Homo sapiens: one gene and its partners. The protein of the gene in region 6 binds, or shares a complex with, the protein of the main gene of each other region. Each region holds a gene or a part of one and is shown on either strand. Other genes may lie near its edges.

Region 1 (3,500 bases), on a different chromosome or scaffold from region 6:
GTTGACATCTTGGTCCTAGGAATGTGGGTGGAGTCCACAACCCCTACCTGACTTCTTCCCCTCAACACTTTAGGTGGAAGGCCTTGATCCTGACAATGTTCGGGCCATGGTTCGTCTGGCTGTGGGGAGCCGGGTGGTGACTGTTAGTGAGTACTACCTGCGGCCTGTCTCCCAGCAGGAGTTTGACAAGAACACCTTGGATCTCAGTGAGTGAGCCTCTTGTAGAGCTAGGGGAGTTGGCAACGCATTCCTAGGGGTGGCAGGGCCTGGCTAATGGGGTGGTTTTAGATCTGCAGCAGGGAGGGGCAGCAGTGTGCCTGGCAGATATGACTTCCAATCAGAGGTCAGGAGGTGAGAATGGACATAAGTGACTTACTCCATTTGATTGGAGAAAGGTCGATGTCATACCCCTGGGTCTGTAGCCTGTCTGAGTGAGAAGAAACAGGTGCAGAAACCAATTCCTACCTTCGAGATCTTTGTCCATTTGGGGTGATGAACCTCTCTTTTACTAGGGAGTGAGAACTGCTAGGATTAGGGTGTGACCAAGAAGGAAGGAATTCTAGGCAGACAGAACAGCACAGGCGAAGGCGTTTCGGTAGGACGGGGCAGTTTGGCAAATGGGTACAGACAGAGCTCTCTGGGAATCTCTAGTCCACACTAGGTGAGCATTGTTGTTGTGGGCTAGGTTGGCTGCGGGAGGGTTCCTGAAGGAAGCTGAAATGGTTGAGAGGTGGGGGAGAGGCATTCTACTAGCAAATGCATGAGGGGTGAGAGGGGCACTTTGGCAGGTGGGAGGTGGCTCTAGGCTGAGACATGGCCTTGGAAGGAAAGGGCAGTGAGACACTGAGGCTCTGTCCTGGTTCTCCTCATAACCTCTTGAACAGGCCAGATGAGCAAAACTTCCTTCCCCAGGGCAACAGAACGGAACTGCCTCATCACGGAAGACCCTCTGGAATCAAGAACTCTACATCCAGCAGGACAACTCAGAGAGGAAGCGGAAACACCTTCCAGACCGGTGGGACTCTGAGCATGCGGGAGGGGTCAAGAAGGCAGGGCTGTGGGTAGGCTCGAGCAGCCAGGGAAGGCTTCCAAGGCAAGGCGGGCTCATAGAAGGAACGGGGAACTGCATTGTGGGTGGGTTTCATAGCATAGGCAAAGGGAGGGCAACTGGAAAGTGCATCTGATGAAGAGCTAAGCCTGGTGCTGGCACCTTCTCCACAGACAGGATGGGCCTGCAGCCAAGAGTGAGAAAGCAGCCCCCAGAAGTCAGCACTGGTTGCACAGGGACCTGCGTGTGCGGTTTGTGGACAACATGTACAAAGGAGGCCAATATTACAACACCAAGGTGGGAACCCTGCAGCCTGAGTCCCCCTCCCTCTCCTAGGGACTGGGCCCCCCTACCTCTCTAAAATCTCACATCCCCCTGACCTGTATCCCCAGATGATAATTGAAGATGTCCTAAGCCCAGATACCTGTGTATGTCGGACAGATGAAGGCCGAGTCCTGGAAGGTGAGTTTGAGCGATGGCAGCTGGAGGTTGATCAAGAAGAGTGTTTTAGGCCCAGAGCCTGGCCCAGGCAAAGCTGGGAGGTTTGGCAGAGTTCAGGTATTTTGCAAGGCCTAGCATCCTCTTACAGAACATTAGACACTTCCATGATGGTGGTTGGTTATCTTGAGCCCCACTCTCCCAGTCTGTCAAGTTTTCTTTTTTTTCTTTTTTTTTTTTTTTGAGACAGAGTCTCACTCTGTCACCCAGGCTGGAGTGCAGTGGCGTGATCTCAGCTCACTGCAACCTCCACTTCCCAGGTTCAAGCGATTTTCCTGCCTCAGCCTCCCGAGTAGCTGGGATTACAGGCAAGCGTCACCACACCTGGCTAATTTTTGTGTTTTTAGTAGAGACAGGGTTTCACCATGTTGACCATGCTGGTCTTGGAACTCCTGACCTTAAGTGATCCTCCCACCTCGGCCTCCCAAAGTGCTGGGATTACAAGCGTGAGCCACCGCGCTCGGCCTCCGGTCTGTCAAATTAGCATGGAATTTACTATTTCTTCCTCTTGTGATTGGTGCCTTAGTGAAGGAATGTGTATTGAGCTCTCAGTGCAGGGCAGGGGTTAAAACATGCCCACAATAAAAGGTGCCTGTTGTTATCACCACCACCCTTTATTACAGTGATTTTTGTAAACTACTCCTTAGGCTACCTCATCTGTGAAATGGATGTGGCGGGACTCCCATCTGTCAACAGGGTGTAGAGTGGCTCCAGGGAATACAGGAAAGGCCCTTCTTTTTTTTTTTTTTTTTTTTTTTTTTTTTTTTGAAACAGAGTCACTCTGTCACCCAGGCTGGAGTGCAGTGACGCAATCTTGGCTCACTGCAACCTCCGCCTCCCGGGTTCAAGCTATTCTTCTGCCTCAGCCTCCTGAGTAGCTGGAACTACAGGTGCCCGCTACCACACCCAGCTAATTTTGGTATTTTTAATAGAGACAGGTTTTCACCATATTGGCCAAGCTGGTCTTGAACCCCTTACCTCGTGATCCTCCTGCCTCAGCCTCCCAAAGTGCTGGGATTACAGGCATGAGCCACCACACCCAGCTGAAAGGCCCTTCTTTTTTTTTTTTTTCTTTTTTTTTTTTTGAGATTGGGTCTCATTTTATCACCTATGCTGGAGTGCAGTGGCACCATCATGGATCACTGCCACCTCAAATTCCTGGTTTCAAGCCATCCTCTCACCTCAGCCTCCTGAGTAGCTGGGACTGCAGGCACTGACCACCATGCCTGGCTAATTTTAAAATTTTTTGTAGGCTGGGCGCGGTGGCTCATGCCTGTAATCCCAGCACTTTGGGAGACCGAGGAGGGTGGATCACCTGAGGTCAGGAGTTTGAGACCAGCCTGACCAACATGTCAAAACCCCATCTCTACTAAAAATACAAAATTAGCCAAACGCAGTAGTGGGTGCCTGTAATCCCAGCTACTCAGGAGGCTGAGGCAGGAGAATCGTTTGAACCCAGGAGGCGGAGGTTGCAGTGAGCCAAGACCACACCATTGCACTCCAGCCTGGGCAACAAGAGCCAAACTCAGTCTCAAAAAACAAAACAAAAAAATCTGTAGAGATGAGGTCTGACCATCTTGCCCAGGTTGGTCTCGAACTCCTGGGCTCAAGCGATCCTCCCAACTTAGCCTCCCAAAGTGCTGGGACTACAGGTGTGAGCCACCACGCCTGGCCAGGAAAGGCCCTTCTGACAGGACGCTGGTTGGGCTGGTCCTTGCTGTGGGCCTCACTCCCCTCTCCCTTATCCATAGGCCTGAGGGAAGACATGCTGGAGACCCTGGTTCCCAAGGCAGAGGGTGACCGTGTGATGGTGGTGCTGGGCCCACAGACTGGAAGGGTGAGTCTCAGACCTGGCAGTAGAGGTTTGTGGGTCGTTCAGGGCCTGTCCCAGGGTCTAGGCTTGCCTTGCTGATTCCACTTCACCTCTGTTCCAGGTGGGACATTTGCTGAGCCG
Region 2 (3,500 bases), about 120 Mb from region 6:
TAGAGATGGGGTTTCACCATGTTGGCCAGGCTGGTCTTAAACTCCTGACCTCGTGATCTGCCCACTTTGGCCTCCCAAAGTGCTGGGATTACAGGCATGAGCCACCGCACCCAGCCAAGTAATCCTATATTATAAGAGTCTAAGGGTCTAGAGGACAAAAAGTCTGTAGGTCTTTACATTGTCAAGAACAATGAGATTGTAAGTATTTTTGGATGATAGTAAATACCTCTCCCTGACTCTTAGAGTAAACTTTGGTTAGTAATGTAATGGTTAATGTAAAGTGCTAGACTTTGAAGAAATGTAAGAGTGTGGAAATATTTCTAGACTCATCAACTCTACCTTTTAAGCATTCATCTATTTGTTTACTCCAGAGGCCTTTGTTTATAGAGAGGAAACCATTTTGGATTCATCTTTTTACTTGCCACTCCATTCAGGCAGCTGCTGATGCTAAAATGGAAGACATAACTAAACTTTCCCTTCTCCAGAGTTCGAAATTTGAGCAACCCAGCCAAGAAGTTCAAGATTGAAGCCAATGCTGGGCAACTGTACCTGACAGGGGTGGTGGTACTGCACAAGGATGTCAACGTGGTAGTAGTGGAAGGGGGTGAGTCTGAAAAACTTGAGGGAGACTGTCCCCAGACAACCCTAGGCTTAGAGTGATTAGCATTGTGGGGAGAAAGGAGAAAAAGATCGTATTTTAGTGCCATACCTGATATAATATGCTAGGTCTCTGCTTCTGTGTTTTTTGGAGTAGAAGGCCCTAAGATGTGGTTCCTGAGATTGCTTCAACTACCACATTAATGTCTGAGCTCAGAGGTTCTTTCTACCCCATCATCTTCCACAGTTCTGGCAAAATTATTCTTCTCTGTTTCCAGGCCCCAAGGCCCAGAAGAAATTTAAGCGTCTTATGCTGCATCGGATAAAGTGGGATGAACAGACATCTAACACAAAGGGAGATGGTGAATGGGGGTTAGAGGGGATTAAGGGGGAGAGCTATGGGAGGTGGGGATGGTGCATCTGTCCGTTCATCTTATTTCCTCCCTGTGACACTCTTGATAACACTAGATAGTGTTCAGGAATTTTAGAAAGACCCGTTTAGACTTTGAGCCTCCTAGACATTCATACAATATTTACTACATGATTATATGCATGAATGGTAAAGCTATTTTTTTGCCTATCATTTAAGGCTTTTCTACCAGCTGGTTTCTGTGTCTGTCCTGGATCTGAGTACCGGTTACATGAATTTATTCAGTATTTGAAAATTCAGCAAGCAGCTAGGCATGGTGGCTCATGCCTGTAATCCTAGCACTTTGGGAGGCTGAGGCGGGCAGATTGCCTGAGGCCAGGAGTTCGAGACCAGCCTGGGCAAACAACGTGGTGAAACCCCATATCTACAAAAAGTACAAAAATTAGCTGGATGTGGTGGCACACACCTGTATTCCCAGCTACTCAGGAAGCTGAGGTGGGAGGATCACTTGAGCTTGGGGAGGTCGAGGCTGCAGTAAGCTGTGATCGTGCCACTGCAATCCAGCCTGGGTGACAGAATGAGACCCTGTCTCAAAAAAAAGAAAAAGCAAATCTAGTAAGCTATACATTCATGTGTACAGTGTCTATATTATATTATTATTTGATTTTTTTTTTTTTAAGGATTGAAGCCAAAAAGATCTTCAGGTCAAAAAAGCTCTGCTTTGATCAAACTATTTCTTTTGTCTGATATATATATATACACACATACACATACATACACACACACACACATACATACACACATGTACACACACATACACATACACACAATACACACACATACATGTACATGTACATACTCACACATATGCTCTTCAACTTAATGATGGGGTTAGTTCCAATAAACCTGAGATAAATTGAAAATATTGTTAAGTCAAAAATGCATTTAAGGCCAGGCACGGTGGCTCACACTTATAATCTGAGCACTTTGGGAGGCCGAGGCGAGCAGATCATTTGAGGTCAGGAGTTCGTAACAGCCTGGCCAACATGGTGAAACCCCGTCTCTACTGAAAACACAAAAATTCGGGGCGTGGTGGTGGACCTCTGTAATCCCAGCTACTCGGGAGGCTGAGGCAGGAGAATCGCTTGAACCTGGCAGGCGGAGGTTGCAGTAAGCTGTGATCGCACCACTGCACTGCAGCCTAAGCGACAGAGCAAGACTCCATCTCAAAAAAAAAAAAATGCATTTAATACATCTGACCTACAGGACATCATAACAGCCTAGCCTTCCTTATACTTTCTCAGAATACTTAGATTAGCCTACAGTTGGGCAAAATCATCTAACACAAAGCCTATTTTTATCTCATGTAAGAGTATTTTACTGCATATTGCTAGCCCAGGAAAATCTCAAAATTTAAAATTTGAAGTACATTTTCTACTAAATATTTATCACTTTCACACTATACTCAAGGCAAAAAATTGTAAGTCAAGGACTGTCTGTCTATATTTGAAGGCCAGACATTCTTCTGGCCATCATACTCCCATTAGTGTTCATTCTTCTCATCTTTGAACACCTGGATTAGCATTTAAAATCTGCAGAGAGGCCTGGTGTGATGGCTTATGCCTGTAATCCCAGCACTTTGGGAGGCCGAGGCGGGTGGATCACCTGAGGTCAGGAGTTTGAGACCAGCCTGACATGGTGAAACCCCGTCTCTACTAAAAAATACAAAAATGAGCTGGGCGTGGCAGCGTGCGCCTGTAATCCCAGCTACTCGGGAGGCCTAGGCAGGAGAATCACTTGAACCCAGGAAGCGGTTGCAGTGAGCTGAGATCATACCACTTCACTCCAGCCTGAGTGACAGAGCAAGACTCCGTCTCAAAAAAATAAAAATATAAATAAAATCTGCAGAGAGTTCATCTTAAGATACCTGAGAATAAAAAATATTTTGTTCTACACGTGCATTTTTTTTTTTTTTTTTTTGAGATGGAGTCTTTGCTCTTTTGCCCAGGCTGGAGTGCAGTGGCACCATCTTGGCTCACTGCAGCCTCCGCCTCCCAGGTTCAAGTGATTCTCCTGCCTCGGCCTCCTGATAAGCTCGGATTACAGGCACCTGCCACCACACCTGGCTAATTTTTGTATTTTTAGTAGAGATGAGGTTTCGCCATGTTGGCTAGGCTGGTCTCAAACTCTTGACCTCAGGTGATCCACTCACCTCAGCCTCCCAAAGCGCTAGGATTACAGGCGTGAGCCACCACGCTGGCCGATAATTTTGATTTGGTATATCTGCCCTCCTCCTCCATTGGGTGAAAGTTTTTTGAGAGTAATATATGATGTTGACATATGAAGCCTGCCTCCCAAAGTGCCTAGGACAAGTTTTTATTCTTGACTGCTTGTCTTTTATTTCCTTATTCCCAGTACCTGGTGGAGCTCTTGATTCATAACAAGTGCTATGTAAATGCTAATTGTATCAATTAATATTACTGCCTACTTGGAGCTTCAAGTCTAATTTGGGGAAAATAAAGAGCAACAGAAA
Region 3 (3,500 bases), on a different chromosome or scaffold from region 6:
GGGCCTGCATGTCAGAGGGCAGATTGGCATAAATGGGCAGCACCAGGAGCTCCCGGATTTTGGAGCCCAGGCGGCGGCAGCGATCCTGGAGCATCTCACAGGCAGCCTCAATCTCCTCCTGGATAGAGGGTAGGGAGAGCAGCAGGGGTCCCAGAGTCACAGAAGGCCAACATGCCGGCCCTGTCTTCCCCTGGGATACATCATCCCCTCTCCCCACCATGTCAGGCACCTGTCCTGTCAGGAACACCAGGATATCCCCAGGGGGCTGGGTCACATGGATCTGCAACACAGATACTACACAAGCTTCCAAGTAGTCAGCCTCTGGAGCCTGGAGAGCAGAAAGAGATGGGGTCACAGGAGGGCCACCTGCTTAGGCAAACCTTTCCTCTCCTCCCAATTCAACATACACTTTATCCTAGTTCCCCTTTGAACCTTCCATTCCATCTTTCCCTCCACAGGATAACCTTCTCCAAAGGCCTCAGCTTTTCTGCCACAGACTTAAGCCCATCCTCCCTGAGGGGGCACCTTGGTGTAGAAGATGTCCACAGGAAACCTGCGTCCGGGGATTCGAAACACAGGGGCGTCATCAAAGAAGGTGGAAAAACGGGCAGTGTCCATTGTGGCTGAAGCCACCAGGACCTTGAGCTCAGGTCGGAAGCGAGCAACATCCTTGATCAATCCAAAGAGAATGTCTGTGTGTAGGGTCCTTTCGTGTGCCTCATCCACCATCACCACGCTGGGGAGGGAATAGGAGAGCAATGAGGGAAGAGCGCTAGGCAATGCAGTATCAGACACCAGAGTTAACTGGATGAGAGGGGAGTAATGGACACAAAGAGTTCAAGAATGACTGTTGACGGAGGGGGCTCTAAGGAGAAGTCAGCCATCCCACTTATGTAGAGCAACAGAAAGTCAGAGAAGGCCAGGGCCCCATGATCTGCAACCTATCCCAGCCTCAGCAGATAATAGGAGACAAGATGTAGAGGCTGCACACTGAGGCCAGGACAAGTTAGCCATACCCTCTAGTTCAGTCAAGAGTCTGCTTAGACTCAGCAGCTGCTCTTACTAGAAAAAGTTGAAGGATATGTTTTAGGCTGGGCATGGTGGTAGCTCACGCCTGTAATCCCAGCACCTTGGGAGGCCGAGGCAGGTGGATCACAAGGTCAGGAGTTCGAGACCAGTCTGGCCAATACAGTGAAACCCCGTCTCTTCTAAAAATACAAAAAAAATTAGCCAGATGTGGTGGTAGACGCCTGTAGTCCCAGCTACTTGGGAGGCTGAGGCAGGAGAATCGCTTGAACCTGGGAGGCAGAGGTTGCAGTGAGCCAAGATCGTGCCACTGCACTCCAGCCTGGGTGACAGAGCGAGACTCCATCTAAAAAAAGAAAAAAGAAAAAGTGGAAGGATTTTTTTTTTGAGACAGTCTTGCTCTGTTGCAGGCTGGAGTGTAGTGGCATGATCTCAGCTCACTGCAAGCTCCGCCTCCTGGGTTCACACCATTCTCCTGCCTCAGCCTCCCAAGTAGCTGGGACTACAGGTGCCTGCCACTGTGCCTGGCTAATTTTTTGTATTTTTAGTAGAGACGGAGTTTTGAAACAGAGTCTCACTCTGTCGCCCAGGCTGGAGTACAGTGGCACGATCTCGGCTCACCGCAAGCTCCGCCTCCTGGGTTGCGTTCACGCCATTCTCCTGCCTCAGCCTCCTGAGTAGCTGGGACTACAGGTGCCCGCCACCACGCCCAGCTAATTTTTTATATTTTTTAGTAGAGACGGGGTTTCACCGTGTTAGCCAGGATGGTCTTGATCTCCTTACCTCGTGATCCGCCTGCCTCTGCCTCCCAAAGTGCTGGGATTACAGGCGTGAGCCACCGCTCCCGGCTGATACGTTTTAAAGGAAAAAAAAAGTGGAAGGCAGGGTCCCTTTCAATAAGGGTGGGCCAGCAAGGCTGACTGGGGGTAATAGACCTGAGCTGCTGTGATTCAAATAGCCTAGAAGCTCCTGGTGTCCTGTGGGACAACTGCTGCTGGCATCATTCTTGACTGTTTCTTCTTTTGGAGACAGGAGCAAGTTAAGCCTTTCTACCTCAACTCTCACAGGACTCTGCATGCTCCTTGGTTTCCTCCTAACTCAGTTATGTGCATGACACCTTCTTTCTCTTTGTTCTTTGGCTTTTCTGGGTGGCAGCCAAGTCCCAGGAACTCATCCCCATCTTCCCCTACCCACCTCCCTGACCTCAACTCTTTGTGCCTAACCCTAACTGTGATGGTGAAGTCCCCAGCCATTCCACAAAGCAGGCTGGCTCGATGGGCAAAAACATCTGCATCAGACACTCTTGCGCTGGCTGGCTCTCCATGGGTTCTTAGAGATCTTTTGCAAGGGATATGAAGGATAAAATCCTATCTGTCCAATTGCTCCACTGTGATCTTCCAAGACCAGAAATTCACAGCCTCTGAAGAGTCAAAAAGGCACATATTGTTCAGCTGGCCTGACCCCACCCCCATTACATTCATGAATCCCTTTTCCCCCTCAACACATGTTCAACCAACCCCTGCTTGGCCATTTCCAGCACTAAGAGCTCATTATTCACAGACCAAGCTACCCAAGACTTGTGTGGAGGGCCAAGACCCAGAGTCCAACCACTCTGACAGGCCCTGCAATCTCCACCACTCTGAGGGTTACTCAGCCATTGGTATTGAGTTGGAATCTGTCTCCCTGTAACCTCCCCATGGCTCCTAGCTATGTCGTGTAGGGTCACATAAAACAATCTGATCCTTCTTTCCATGTAACAGCCTTCACATATTTAGAGGGAACCAGGATGCTTCCTGTTTCTCCCTCTGAGCTGAGCATTCCAAGTGTTTTCAAATGGTCTTCACACGGTATTTCAAGTCTCGGCAGCAATGCTCTGCTATCCTGGTTGTTTTCTAAACCCTGGAGATGAATGGGGAAAGAAGAGGCTTTCTCTACAATCTCTTCTGTCCTCCAGCCCCATCTCCGTGGTACCTGGAGGTCAGTTCAAGGACCATTTGAACCACAAAGATTCAAGAACGGGTGGATTAATCAGAAGACAATGGCTGAATTGGCTGGGTGGGAAGAAGGGAGAGAAAGGCCAGAGATTAGAGATACCTGTAACTCGCCAGGTCAGGCTCAGAGAGGAACTCCCGGAGAAGCATCCCATCTGTCATGTAGCGGAGGACAGTTCGCTCTGATGTGCAGTCCTCAAAGCGGATGCTGTAGCCAACCTGGTCAAGGGAACCATTAGCAACCAAGTGTGGGCTGGTGTGCCCTGAAAGGAACTTGGGGAAAGGTGAAGTGGGGCAGCACCAAGACTTCTGCTGTAGGGACCTGAGGGAACTGTAGACTGAGTCACAGACCCCAGACTCTACCCCCCGGTTCCCTAGAAATCTCACCTCATTCCCAAGCTTCACACCCATCTCCCGGGCCACTCGGGCGGCCACACTCATGGCAGCCACTCTCCGGGGTTGGGTGCAGGCAATCTTCATACC
Region 4 (3,500 bases), on a different chromosome or scaffold from region 6:
AAGTGACGCAGAAGCTGAAGCCGTGAGAGAAGTCTATGAAAGGGCCATTGCCAATGTCCCACCCATTCAGGAGAAGAGGCACTGGAAGCGCTACATTTATCTTTGGATCAACTATGCACTCTATGAAGAATTGGAGGCAAAGGTGAAAAAACAGAATTATGTGTCAGCTGATAATGGTTTCCTGTCTTCTGTATTCACAGCTCACCTATTGTGGATGTTTGTAATTCTTGAAAGAAGGAAATTTAGTTTTAAATTTTTATAGGCTTCTGTTCATCCATACAGTTATATATTCGCTCTGCAACATTTTAAACCCTCTGTGCTTGTTGTGGCCACACGTGAGGGGCTTTTTTAACTTTGGTTTGATTTTTACTTGAGGCACAACAAGATATCACTTGGAGCTTGAAAGAGAACAGTGAACCAGCCCTTAATTTAGTGAAATATAGTTTCCTGGATTTGCTCATTAATAGGAGTAATTCTGGCTAGATTATGCATTTTTGCTTTTAGCAAAAATCAAGTGGCATTTTCAGAAATCATTTGTATTAACCTTCTGGGTTTGATCTGAGACTATGAAACATCTTTGTTTCTTTCTGCCATCAGGCAAAACGGCTTTCTACAAAGAAGGGCTTAGAAGTTTGGTGGCTATCTTGTTGGTGATTCTTAAACTGAAGTTTCATGGCCGTTCATACTTTAGATCATAAATCAGGGTTTGCAAGTAACAACTTGTGAAACATGCTGTTTTGGGGGTGTACATTTTTACCAATATCAGTAAAATTAGTAACTAGTAAAATGAGTGTTAGCAGCAGACTTCAATATTTTGTGAAAATTTCTTATCCTAATACAGGATCCTGAGAGGACAAGACAGGTGTATCAAGCCTCTTTGGAACTAATTCCTCACAAAAAGGTATGTTTGCTCTAAAGTGTTCCATTTCAAACAGGTCAGAATCCTCTTCTGTTACTTGTGAAGTAATTCAGTGAAATAATATTGATTGATAAAATGCTTCCCTGTCCCACCATGGACAACATAAATAAGACTGAGATATGCTCCTTGCCTCTGAAAACAGCTCACAGACTAGGTTGGAGGACAACCTGCATTGACAAACAAATAATATAAATTCAGAGAAGGCTAGGTAATGTGAATAGTCTGAGTGGAAGGAGAAAGACATCCATGCAGAGAGCACACAACGTGTGCGGGGGACACACAGGCGGGTTTGTTGGTAACAGTGAGTGTGTGCATGCACAGATGAATGTGCCCCTTGTGTAGATGGTTGAGATGTTACCTCCGCCTTGTTTCCCAGCACGAGAAACAAAACGTGTTTCCTTCTGTAGAAGTGTTGACTGAGTTACTTTTCAGAATAGAGGTAGGACATTCTGCCCATATACAAGCATGCCTACAAAACAAAGTCTGTTCTGAGCAGAGGCTACCGTGCCATACAGTACAGTACAGTATCTGGATCATGGTTCTCAGGAGAGGTTACCATGCCATGCAGTACAATATAGTATCTGGATCATGGTATGTGGGTTTCTAACTTTTGTGAAATGAATGTGGTCTTTGCTTGTAAATAAGCAGAGTACATTCCTCTTACTCTGAAGTTTTAGAGAAATCGAATTACCAATGGCTTTGGTTAATTTAAATTAATTTTAATTCAATTTAATTTGGATGAGGCTTTTAAGCTAGATATTTTTGTGCTTTTGTTTTCTAGTTCACATTTGCCAAAATGTGGATACTGTATGCACAGTTTGAAATACGACAGAAGAATCTGTCATTAGCCAGAAGAGCATTGGTAAGTAAAGAAAGGATCAAGATGTCTCATCAAGTTCTATGAGAAAGAAATTAAAATCTTGGTGCTTGGAAGTTGTACAGTTCCTACTTTAAAGAGTGACAGAAGTATTATACCTTTATAGCCTGGGACATGTTAGAAAACATGCGTCCTCTGTAAAAACACTGACTAATAATGCGTAAATTATTCTTATTACCTGGGGCAAATTAACATTCTGTTTCAATATTGGAAACTTCTATAGCTACCAGTTACTAAATCTTTCCACAGACTGGAATTAGTAATCTGATCCTGTGCAAACTTTTTGGTGTGTTAAATGCACTTTTAATTGTTCCACTTTTTTTTTCTTTTTTTTTTTTTTGTTTGTTTGGTTTTTTTTTGAGACAGGGTCTCGCTCTGTTCCCCAAGCTGGAATGCAGTAGCGCGATCTTGGCTCACTGCAACCTCTGCCTCCTGGGCGGAAATGATCCTCCCATGTTGGCCTCTCAGAATGCTGGGATTACAGGCATGAGCCACCATGCCTTGTCCTTTTTATTTATAGGAGGTTTTATGCATTTGACATCCCTATTCCCTAGGAGATCCTGAGAAACTTTCAAATCTTATTTTATTTAGTTGCCCAAACAATTCTGGAACACTGCCTCTTGCTGAGTGAATTAGAGGAGTTTCCTTCAGCCTTTTGTCAAGAACCAGTAAACATTGTGATACCACAGAGGGAAAGAATGGTAGGCCATGTTGACTTTGCAAGATTCTTCCTCAGCAGAGAACAGCCTCTAGGGCAGTGCAATAACTGCACAGATTAAATCCACTACAGTATCACAGTGGTCTGGTTATTTTATTTTCCAGGGAACTTCCATAGGCAAATGTCCAAAGAACAAATTATTTAAAGTTTACATAGAATTGGAGCTACAGCTTCGAGAATTTGACAGATGCCGGAAGCTTTATGAAAAGTTCCTGGAATTTGGACCTGAAAATTGTACCTCATGGATTAAATTCGCTGAATTAGAGACAATCCTTGGTGATATTGACAGAGCACGGGCAATCTATGAATTAGCCATCAGTCAGCCACGTTTAGACATGCCAGAGGTGAGCATCTCAAGTCAAATATAATTTTGTTTGAGATACGTGTTTAGTCTTACTTTAGATGACCATCTAAATGTGGGTGTATTTTAGAGTATAACGATGATCTAACTAACTTAGTCTCTTCTACTCAGATTAGGCTTGTACGTGGAAAGGTGGCTGTGGGGGACAGGGGAAGTAGCCCTCTCATTAGATACCAGAGCAGTAGACATCCAGGATGATGCCCAGGATGAACTGGGATATCATGGGGGTGGGTGACGCCCCTTCTGCAGCAGGAAAGCCTAAAGGGGCTGGGGAAGAGGCCAGGCAAGGAAGAAGCCAGCAGGCTGGCCCACCCGGAGAACGAGGGGGATGGAGGTAGGAACTGCACATCCCTGTATTCTCTAAACCAGGATGTCCTTGCAACTTCTGTTGTCACTGTCCTGAAAGTCCTCGCCTGCCTTCAGTAGTTAAGCTTGACCCACAAGGTAGCACCAAACCACAGCTAGGAAAGATTTGAATCTCACATGAGTCGTAGAACTCACCCAGCCGTTTTGTTAATCTCATGCACTAACATGACCCTGCATTTAATGGTTTGGCCCCCTGATTGCATTAATTAAGGCAGGGCTTTGGGTATCACTGAGTTCATCAGTTGTCCTCGGCTCCTCC
Region 5 (3,500 bases), on a different chromosome or scaffold from region 6:
CAGCTAATTTTTATGATTTTAGTAGAGATGGGGTTTCACCATGTTGGTCAGGATGGTCTCAATCTTTTGACCTCGTGATCTGCCTGCCTCGGCCTCCCAAAGTGCTGGGATTACAGGCGTGAGCCACCGCGCCCGGCCCAGTATCATTTTTTAATTGCACAAAGGTTGGCGTCATGATAGACTGTCTAACTGCCAGCGAAGTGTCTAGCGGAGGCAGAGCCTGTCGCCTGTAAGGAAGGCCATTTAGGGGTCTGGGAACTGTGGGCTGAGGCCCGGAGGTGGTGGTCCATCTCAGGGCAGAGCTACACCTCCTGAGGGGCCCATGGCGCAGGGCTCCAGGGCTACAGCCAACCTCTAGCCTGTCTCTCTTCTAGTTGGTGGAGCTGAAAAATGGGGAGACGTACAATGGACACCTGGTGAGCTGCGACAACTGGATGAACATTAACCTGCGAGAAGTCATCTGCACGTCCAGGGTGGGTGCTGCACCCACCAACGGGGGTGGGATGCAGGGGGTGCACACTCAGCCTCCTCCCTCCCTCCCTGGGCCTCATGGGAGGAGTCAGTGGGGGAGGCCGCCTAGGACTGCTCGTCCTTCCAGGGGTCAGTCAGGAGGGACAGGGCAGGGTGAGCTAGGCCACCAAGTCTCCCAGTGTGCCCTGGACTTTGACCCTGTGGGAGACTTTCCTGCTGTGTGTCTGTTGGTGCCACCCCTGACCTGGAAGGACCTAGGACTGGGGACTCCCTGTGGCTCAGGCTGGGGCAGCCCCCTCCAGGGGAGGCCCAAGACTCCCGGACTCTGCTGCCTTTAGTCCAGCCTGGATGTTGCCTGCACTCTGCGGGCCATGGTAGTGTGGCCCTGGGATGTCCGGGATGCCCAGGTCACGGTGGGCAGGAGCAGCGCCAGGGCCCGGTGGGTCAGGAGCCACCAGCCAGAGCCCAAGACCGGAAGTGCCTGGCTAGGAGTGCTGCTGGGTCGGCCGGGGCTGGAAGATGGTTCCCCTGGTGTCACGGGCCTTCCCTGCCCCTGGGATGACCCACAGAGCACTGAGGAGGAGGCCAGGGATGGTGCTGAAGGCAGCGGCTCCCTTGGACTCCTCCCACCAACCTTCCCTGACCCCATCTGTCTTGTCTCCCTGTGGGTGACAGCCCCCCATGGTATAGGGAGGAAACTGCTGGGGAGCTTGGAGTGCCTGCCTGGGGTCACCTTGACAGGACAACAGGGCTCGAGGGGGGAGGCGCTTCTTCCTGAAGTGGCCGTATCTTGCCCTGACCGCCACCCCCACCCGGGACTGGGCCTCTCATCAGCACAGGGCTGGGCGGGGTGGGGACAGGTGGTGAGGCTGCTGTGCAGCAGCGCTAGAAGCTCTAGAAACTGCTTGCTGGGTTTCGTGCCATAGCCTGTCGGAGGGCGTCTGGGTGGGTCCAGTCTGGCTGTGTCGGATGGTGCCTTGGTGCAGAACCGCGTGCCTCCCATCTGCGGCCAGCGGGGCTCTGTCCACTTCCGGTATTGGAATCACCAGGCGTGTTGCGTGCGTGAGCATGTGCGGTCTTGTGGACACCTCCAGGTCCTAGACATGAGAAGCCTGTTGATTCAGAGGCTGCGTGGTCTCCAGGGGTTGGTTTGGCCTCTGCCTCCAGCTTCGAGTGGACGGATGGCTTTCCCTGAGCAGCCTGCCTCTGTGGCCAGGCGGTGATGCTGCCGTCACATGTGGCTGGGAGGAGAGGCGATGGGAACTCACATCGTCCCCATCTAAGTGGGGCCCTCCCTCCCTCAGAGGCAGGCCGCAGGATGCAGAGACCCCGGGCTGAGAGACCTCTGGAGCGCTGTGGGCAGGAGGCAGGGGCCTCCCTGCAGTGAGCTCAGGCCCTGCCCAGGTTCCTGCACGAGGAAGCCTCTGGGCCCTGCCTGGGAGAGCTGGGCGCCAAGTCACCTGCCCAGGCCCTGAGTCCCCACAGAACCATGGTGTGTCCGCCCCACGAGCCCTCGAGGGGTTCCTGGGAGAGTGAGCACCCAAAGGGGCTGTTCCTCCCCGCCCAGCGCTAGGCCAGGCCACACCTACCCAGGTGTGGAGGAGAGTGTCTGACAGGAGGACTTGGGGATTCGGGCAGGTAAGGCCTTTTGGGGTCAAAGTTAGCCAGATGAGAAGTGGGAAAACCACGTGCAAAGTTCTGGGGGCAAGCCCATGGCGTGTGTTCCGGAAACAGAAAGTTCCATCTGGAGGGAGTGTCGTCGGGCTGGGAGAGGACCGCCAGGGCGGGGCAGGATCTCGGGCCCTAGAGAGCCCTGCTGAGGTTCTTAGACCTTGCCCCCAGGCTGGAGGGGGCCCTGGGTGGGTTCCAAGCTGGAACATACTGTGATCTGACTTTAAAGGGCATCGGGGGCAAAGGCCATCCAGGCGTCGTGCGTGGGTCTGTCCAGGAACCTGGGCGGTGGGGCGGGGCTGGGAAACTGATATGGTAGGAATGGCCCTGGCCCCTGCTAATCCCTCGATCTGTCCCAGTGGGGGCCTCGGAGGCATTGCAGCATGAGTCTGTGTCTTTGCAAGGCCCCCATTTCTCCAGTCTTGGTTAGCTCTCCTAAAACTGGCATCGCTGGGAGCCGCCCTTGAGCCACCCTGGCAGGACCCAAGTCCCCCCATTTCCCGCCCCTCTTCACCCACCACACTAGGCCTGTAGCTTGCTCGCATGTCCCTGCACCCAGCGCAGGCCCTGTCAGGAGATACTTAGATGAATGAATGAGTCAGGGCATGTAGAGAGGCTTCCAGAAGTGAGGTGGGGCTGGGGCAGGAGGAGGAGTAGCTGGGCTTCGGCTGTGTCTGGTGCACAGGGAGGCCCCCACCCGCTCTGGGCTTTGGGCTGCAGGTGAAGAACCCCAACCAGAGAGAGCCCCATCCCAGGCTGGAGGGAGCCCCAGTCAGCCACTCCTGAGCCAGGCCCACGGGCAGAGGATAGGAGCCAGTCTTCCTTGTGAGTGCACAATGGGGGCTGCGCCTACCACACCCACCCTTGCTCCTGGGTGAAGGATTGCCTGGGGTCAGGACAGATCCTGCCTGCAGGGTGGACCCTTTGCCACGTATGTCCCGGGACTGATACTGTGCAGCTTGCAGGGGTGGTACGGGGTGCAGGCTGGGCAGGATCTGCAGGGCCTCCCGCGCTCCCAGGGCTGGGCCAGACGGCCCGGTGGTAAGTTAATAACCTGCTCCCCTTCTCCGCAGGACGGGGACAAGTTCTGGCGGATGCCCGAGTGCTACATCCGCGGCAGCACCATCAAGTACCTGCGCATCCCCGACGAGATCATCGACATGGTCAAGGAGGAGGTGGTGGCCAAGGGCCGCGGCCGCGGAGGCCTGCAGCAGCAGAAGCAGCAGAAAGGCCGCGGCATGGGCGGCGCTGGCCGAGGTGGGTCTCCCCTCTCCAGTGGACGTACCTGGGGCGGGAAGACAGCCACACGTGGCATCCCTCCTTCTTGGGGTTGCCCTTGCAGCGCTGCCTCGGAGCCT
Region 6 (3,500 bases):
CTGAGGCAGGAGGATTCCTGGAGCCCAAGAGTTCAAAACCAGCCTGGGCAACACAGTGAGACTCCATCTCAAAAAAAATGAAAAAAGAAAGCATTATAAGATCAGTTATAACTTAGAAATCATCCTCAGAGGCTGGGCGTGGTTGCTTACGCCTATAACCCTAGCACTGTAGGAGGCTGAGGCAGGAAGATTGCTTGAGCCCAGTTCAAGACCAGCCTGGGCAACATAGTGAGACCTTGCCTCTACAAATGATTTTTAAAAATTAACTGAGCATGGTGGCACAGACCTGTGGTCCCAGCTACTCAGGAGGCTGAGGTGGGAGGATCACTTGAGCCCAGGAGGTCGAGGCTGCAGTGAGCCATGATTCCAACCCGGGTGACAGAGCAAGATCTCATCTCAAAAAAAAAATGAAAGAAAGAAATTGTCCTCAGAGACAAAAGAAAAACTTTGGTAAAGAGAAAAGATTGGAGTCACTCAGCTGTCAGGTCGGTACCACAGTCTGTCTGATCTCTGCAGCACCAGGGAGTTATTAAACATTTCCAAGTGAGAGGGTGTCTTATGTTTAAAATGTTAGCTATCACAAAAGAGGAAAAGATAGAGCAAACTGCTACATTAGATGTATGTCATGGGGACTCAAAGAAGGGGAATTTTTTAAACTTCACAGGGGTAGATCTTTTATCTGGGCCATCTGGGCCTAGAGGACAAATAGGATTTTGGTAGGGTGAGGCATTCCAGCATCATGGGCAAACTGGCGTAGCACAGCAGGTCAGTGATCTTGAAAAATTTGGCACCTTTTGTCAAGTAGGAAAGATAGATTGTTACTGTTTATCTTCACTTATTTCTTTTTTATTCTTTCTCTTACTTTCTAGTATGCTTTTCTCAGCATCCACAGATAAAACCGTGGCTGTGTGGGATAGTGAAACAGGTGAGAGGGTTAAAAGGCTAAAGGGACATACTTCCTTTGTGAATTCCTGTTATCCAGCCAGGAGAGGCCCTCAGCTTGTCTGCACTGGCAGTGACGATGGCACAGTTAAGGTGGGTATTGTCTCTCCGTGTTCCAGTTTCTGAGGTGATGTGATGTGAACCTTATCTTGCCTTGCCACTTGTACTCTAGCTTCCTGTGCAAAACTTAATTTTAGCAGTCATCTCCCATAACACACTTGAAATTTTTCCCCATTTAAAATAAAACATTTAATACAAGTTTTAATTACCCTACAGAATAATAATAGAACCATAGAATAAATTGTTACTTGAAATAGGCCGGGTGCTGTGGCTTACGCCTGTAATCCCAGCACTTTGGGAGGCCGAGGCGGGTGGATCACGAGGTCAAGAGATCAAGACCATCCTGGCTAACACGGTGAAACCCCGTCTCTACTAAAAATACAAAAAATAAGCCGGGCGTGATGGCGGGCACCTGTAGTTCCAGTTGCTTGGGAGGCTGAGGCAGGAGAATGGTGTGCACCCGGGAGGTGGAGCTTGCAGAGATTGCACCACTGCACTCCAGCCTGGGCGACAGAGCGAGACTCTGTCTCAAAAAAAAGAACTGTGACAGTAATATACGTGTCTTTCAAGGCTGTTATGAGTATCTCCACCAACAGGGAGGTAGCAAAAAAAAAAAAAAGGCTGTTCTGAGATTATAGACAATATATAAAAAGTTCAGTGAATAGTTTTAGTATGGCACAAGATGGGAACTTAAACATCGTTTAGTCAGATGGTTGCCAGCCTATCTTTATATCATCATCACCTGAAGAACCTGTTAAAAATACCCAAAGAATCTGGTTCAGTGGATCTGCAATGGGAATCAGATATTTTAATGTGTCCTTCAAGTGATTCAGTGTAGCCAGTCTCACATTCTGGGAGCCACTGATCTCACTGAGCATCCTCATTTTATAAATAAGGAAACTGAGGCCTAGAAATAATAATTTATCTCAGAGGCACACAAGGACACAGTACATCATAGTACCAACCATTTGATTCTCTCTTTGACACGAATTTTGGGCTCTGGTTTATATTTTAATTGTTAAACAGTGAGGGACTTCAAAAGAGTACATCTGGGAAACTACACCCCCATACTTCTTATTGCTTTTTAAATGAATTAATGAATTTGCTTTTTTTTTTTTTTCTTTGAGACAGGGTCTTGCTCTATCGCCCAGGCTGGAGTGCAGTGGCACAATCTTGGCTCACTGTAGCCTCCACCTCCCGGGTTCAAGTGATTCCCCAGCCTCAGCCTCTTGAGTAGCTGGGATTACAGGTGCACACCACCATACCTGCCTAATTTTTCTATTTTTGGTAGAGATGGGGTTTCACCATGTTGCCCAGGCTGGAGTGCAGTGGCGCAATCTCAGCTCACTGCAACCTCTACCTCCTGGGTTCAAGCAGTTCCCCTGCCTCAGCCTCCCTAGTAGCTGGGACTACAGGGACCCATACCACGCCCAGCTAGTTTTTGTATTTTCAGTAGAGGCAGGGGTTCATCATATTGGCCAGGCTGGTCTCAAACTCCTGACCTTGTGATCCGCCCCCCTCGGCCTCCCAAAGTGCTGGGATTACAGGCGTGAGCCACCACACTTGGCTGAGACGTTTTTCTACTGAGTGGTTTTCTTATACCTAATCACTTGGGGCCCCTTGATGGTTGGATGGGAGGAGAGTCTGTTGTTTAAGATTGGTTTCTAAACCAGAGCTCTGACCTAGATGTCACTGTAGTTGGAGAGTCTTAACAGTAGCTGATTTACTAATTGTCATTTCAGAAGATAGTAAGAGGTGGAAATGCCCCAGTGAATTTTGTTAACATTATTATTGAGGGCCTGCTGTAATAAATATCTAGGAACTATTTAGGTAGTAGAAAAAGAGTATATGTCCTTTCTGTCTGCCTTCTTTTGGTTTTTTGCTTCTCTTCTGCCTTAATTAAACATGATTTGGAATAGTTATTTTTACCTTATTACTCAAGTTAATACTTTTTTTAATAAGCAGTATGTCACATCACCTAAAGATGACTGCTTTTTAACCAGCTCCTATTTTTAATGTCAGTATATTTATATTTAAGGCATCATTAAACAGCTTTTTGCAATGTACTTTTCAGTTACTTGTGAAGTTGGAATGCTTTGTGTTCTTGTATTTTTGTTACTAGGTTGCAAGTACAGGAATTGAATAACTTCAGTTTAAGAGGAAAAAAAGTCATGTTGCTTTTTACATGTCAGAGTTCTTAACAGAAAGCAAAGGTTTCCAACAGCACTTGCATTTTTAGTCTAAAAGCATTCTGGGCATTATTCATACAGATCGTTTTCAAACTTTTTATCAAGTGCATTCTTCTAATAAAATTAAGTGAAATACTGCGTGTATGTGTGTATGTACTCATATATATATAAATTTCCCTTTCATGAGCAGTTCAGTCCTAAAGCCAGTTATATAGGCCAAAGCAGGGAAGGTGCTCTAGTTAGAGATGGGCCAAGGTGGCCCAGAGTAGAGTGTCAGAGCACAAGTGTGGTAAGGAGAGCATCCACACT
Region 7 (2,283 bases), on a different chromosome or scaffold from region 6:
GGGGCTCCTCTCGGGCGCCTTTCCTCTTCTGCCCTTGTTAATTCCCGCTATGAACGCAGGGTCCCTGTCTCCTCCCCAGAGGACCCTCCCTCATTTCCCTGCCCCCGCTCGCTCCCCTCCCCAGTGAGGCCGCCAAGTCCTCAGACTCTCCCCCAGAAGCTCCTGCGGCAAGTCCCCAGCTGGCAAGTCCCCATCCCGGCCCGGGCACTGGGGGAATGTCAGGACTTAGGAGAGAGAGGGTCTTGCCCCTTGGATCCATTGATACTGAGACAAGATTTATTCTTGTAGCTGGCCATGGTGGCTCATGCCTGTAATCCCAGCACTTTGGGAGGCCAAGACAGGAGGATCACTCGAGCCCAGGAATTTGAGACCAGCCTGGGCAACATAGTGAGACCCTGTCTCTACAAAAAAAAAAAAAATGTAATTAGCCAGGCATGGCGGTACATGTGCCTGTGGCCCCAGCTACTCAGGAGGCTAAGGCAGGAGGATTGTTTGAGCCCAGGAGGTTGAGGCTGTGAGCTGTGATTGCACTGCTGCACTCCAACCTGAGCAACAGAGCAAGACCTGGTGTCTGAAAAAAAGTTTAAAAACCTGGGCCCCATGGTTCTCCCATGCCCCCACCACTGCAGGACCACAGTAGTGAGGAGTTTTAATCGCCTTCAGCCTCTTGAGAGCTTGTCTTGGGCTTGCTGGCACTTCCCTGGGGTGCCAGCCCACATGGTCCCCACCCCACATGAACAGCCTCTTTATTTTTTTATTTTTTGAGATGGAATCTCGCTCTGTCACCCAGGCTGGAGTGCAGTGGCGCGATCTCGGCTCACTGCAAGCTCCGCCTCCTGGGTTCACACCATTCTCCTGCCTCAGCCTCCCGAGTAGCTGGGACTCCAAGTGCCTGCCACCACGCCCGGCTAATTTTTTTGTATTTTTTAGTAGAGACGGGGTTTCACCAAGTTAGCCAGGATGGTCTCGATCTCCTGACCTCGTGATCCGCCTGCCTTGGCCTCCCAAAGTGCTGGGATTACAGGCGTGAGCCACCGCGCCCGGCCCCCAGCCTCTTTGTTATAGGGTGAATATTGGCCCCCTAGGGCTCCAGGGACCTTGCAGAGACCAGGAGGCCCAGGGTGCCTGTATTCTGGCCGGCCATCTGATAACCTGGTTCCCGGCCCTGGTGCCTGGGCCCCAGTGAGCTCTGAGACGCGGGGTAGCCGGCTATCACCTGGGCCTTCTTGTTCCCATGGTTTGTGGAGTGAGGGAGGGCTGTGGCTGCTGTCTGTGGAGCTGCCACTGGTCTCTAGGGGCCATGGGTCTCAGCCGTGGGAGCCGGGGACCTGCCCCACAGAGCGCATCCCGTCTGAGGTCCCTGCGTGCTCGTGGCGCCTGCAGGGTGCAGGTGGGGAGGTCGGAGCGAGGGTCTTGGGTGGGTGGGGGGTCTCGGAGGCTTCCTGGAGGTCCCTCAGTCCTCTCTATCTGCTCCTCCCCAGACCCTGACGACCAGTACAAGCTCACGGAGGACACCCGGCAGCTGGGCCTCGTGGTGTGCCGGGGCACGTCCGTGGTGCTAATCTGCCCGCAGGACGGCATGGAGGCCATCCCCAACCCCTTCATCCAGCAGCAGGACGCCTAGCCTGGCCGGGGGCGCGGGGGGTGCAGGGCAGGCCCGAGCAGCTCGGTTTCCCGCGGACTTGGCTGCTGCTCCCACCGCAGTACCGCCTCCTGGAACGGAAGCATTTTCCTTTTTGTATAGGTTGAATTTTTGTTTTCTTAATAAAATTGCAAACCTCAATGTGTCTGAGCCCCGAATCTTGCTTTTCCCTTGACCTTCTGAGGAAACCTGGATTCCTGGAGATTGGACTCAGTCCCTGGAGCTCATCAAATACCAGCCATGGTCCCTCCTGGGGGTGAGGGTTCAGGAGTGACCAAGGCGGGCACAGCCAAGGCCGAGACAGGCGAGTTTGGAACCTCAGTCTGATGAGGGGCTTGTGGAACCCCAGGCCCGCCCCCAAGACAGCAGGAGCTGGGGTGCATCAGGAGCCGGGATGCATCAGGAGGCTGGGGTATATCAGGAGGCCGGGGTGCATCAGGAGGCCGGGGTGCGTCAGGAGCCGGGGTGCATTAGGAGGCTGGGGTGCATTAGGAGGCTGGGTGTGTCAGGAGCTGGGTGTGTCAGGACCTGGGGTGAATCAGGAGCCGGGGTGCATCAGGAGGCTGGGGTGCATCAGGAGCCGGGGTGCATCAAGAGGCCAGACCCCACAGCCCATGCAGCTAACACCTGCCCCCGCTGCT

Evidence for each region.
Region 1: SNRNP40 (region 6) and GPKOW share a complex: the UniProt entries of both Homo sapiens proteins name them as parts of the minor spliceosome.
Region 2: SNRNP40 (region 6) and PRPF3 share a complex: the UniProt entries of both Homo sapiens proteins name them as parts of the U4/U6-U5 tri-snRNP complex.
Region 3: SNRNP40 (region 6) and DHX16 share a complex: the UniProt entries of both Homo sapiens proteins name them as parts of the minor spliceosome.
Region 4: SNRNP40 (region 6) and CRNKL1 share a complex: the UniProt entries of both Homo sapiens proteins name them as parts of the minor spliceosome.
Region 5: SNRNP40 (region 6) and LSM4 share a complex: the UniProt entries of both Homo sapiens proteins name them as parts of the U4/U6-U5 tri-snRNP complex.
Region 7: SNRNP40 (region 6) and LSM7 share a complex: the UniProt entries of both Homo sapiens proteins name them as parts of the U4/U6-U5 tri-snRNP complex.

Annotation. Positions count from the first base shown.
Region 1 is NC_000023.11:49,113,736-49,117,235, reverse strand, and holds part of GPKOW (G-patch domain and KOW motifs-containing protein), read left to right. Parts: intron 1-73; coding exon 74-206; intron 207-912; coding exon 913-1,015; intron 1,016-1,221; coding exon 1,222-1,345; intron 1,346-1,440; coding exon 1,441-1,510; intron 1,511-3,297; coding exon 3,298-3,383; intron 3,384-3,480; coding exon 3,481-3,500. UniProt on the Homo sapiens protein: RNA-binding protein involved in pre-mRNA splicing. As a component of the minor spliceosome, involved in the splicing of U12-type introns in pre-mRNAs.
Region 2 is NC_000001.11:150,345,533-150,349,032, forward strand, and holds part of PRPF3 (U4/U6 small nuclear ribonucleoprotein Prp3), read left to right. Parts: intron 1-485; coding exon 486-604; intron 605-875; coding exon 876-959; exon of another isoform or gene 960-969; intron 970-3,500. UniProt on the Homo sapiens protein: Plays a role in pre-mRNA splicing as component of the U4/U6-U5 tri-snRNP complex that is involved in spliceosome assembly, and as component of the precatalytic spliceosome (spliceosome B complex).
Region 3 is NC_000006.12:30,659,507-30,663,006, forward strand, and holds part of DHX16 (pre-mRNA-splicing factor ATP-dependent RNA helicase DHX16), read right to left. Parts: coding exon 3,405-3,500; intron 3,237-3,404; coding exon 3,121-3,236; intron 2,926-3,120; exon of another isoform or gene 2,351-2,925; coding exon of another isoform or gene 2,250-2,350; intron 1,112-2,249; exon of another isoform or gene 1,064-1,111; intron 737-1,063; coding exon 526-736; intron 329-525; coding exon 230-328; intron 119-229; coding exon 1-118. UniProt on the Homo sapiens protein: Required for pre-mRNA splicing as a component of the spliceosome. Contributes to pre-mRNA splicing after spliceosome formation and prior to the first transesterification reaction.
Region 4 is NC_000020.11:20,038,967-20,042,466, reverse strand, and holds part of CRNKL1 (crooked neck-like protein 1), read left to right. Parts: coding exon 1-142; intron 143-841; coding exon 842-901; intron 902-1,700; coding exon 1,701-1,781; intron 1,782-2,618; coding exon 2,619-2,858; intron 2,859-3,500. UniProt on the Homo sapiens protein: Involved in pre-mRNA splicing process. As a component of the minor spliceosome, involved in the splicing of U12-type introns in pre-mRNAs.
Region 5 is NC_000019.10:18,309,577-18,313,076, reverse strand, and holds part of LSM4 (U6 snRNA-associated Sm-like protein LSm4), read left to right. Parts: intron 1-374; coding exon 375-473; intron 474-3,215; coding exon 3,216-3,399; intron 3,400-3,500. UniProt on the Homo sapiens protein: Plays a role in pre-mRNA splicing as component of the U4/U6-U5 tri-snRNP complex that is involved in spliceosome assembly, and as component of the precatalytic spliceosome (spliceosome B complex).
Region 6 is NC_000001.11:31,286,789-31,290,288, reverse strand, and holds part of SNRNP40 (U5 small nuclear ribonucleoprotein 40 kDa protein), read left to right. Parts: intron 1-869; coding exon 870-1,035; intron 1,036-3,500. UniProt on the Homo sapiens protein: Required for pre-mRNA splicing as component of the activated spliceosome. Component of the U5 small nuclear ribonucleoprotein (snRNP) complex and the U4/U6-U5 tri-snRNP complex, building blocks of the spliceosome.
Region 7 is NC_000019.10:2,321,021-2,323,303, reverse strand, and holds the end of LSM7 (U6 snRNA-associated Sm-like protein LSm7), read left to right. Parts: intron 1-1,481; coding exon 1,482-1,624; 3' UTR 1,625-1,783; downstream 1,784-2,283. UniProt on the Homo sapiens protein: Plays a role in pre-mRNA splicing as component of the U4/U6-U5 tri-snRNP complex that is involved in spliceosome assembly, and as component of the precatalytic spliceosome (spliceosome B complex).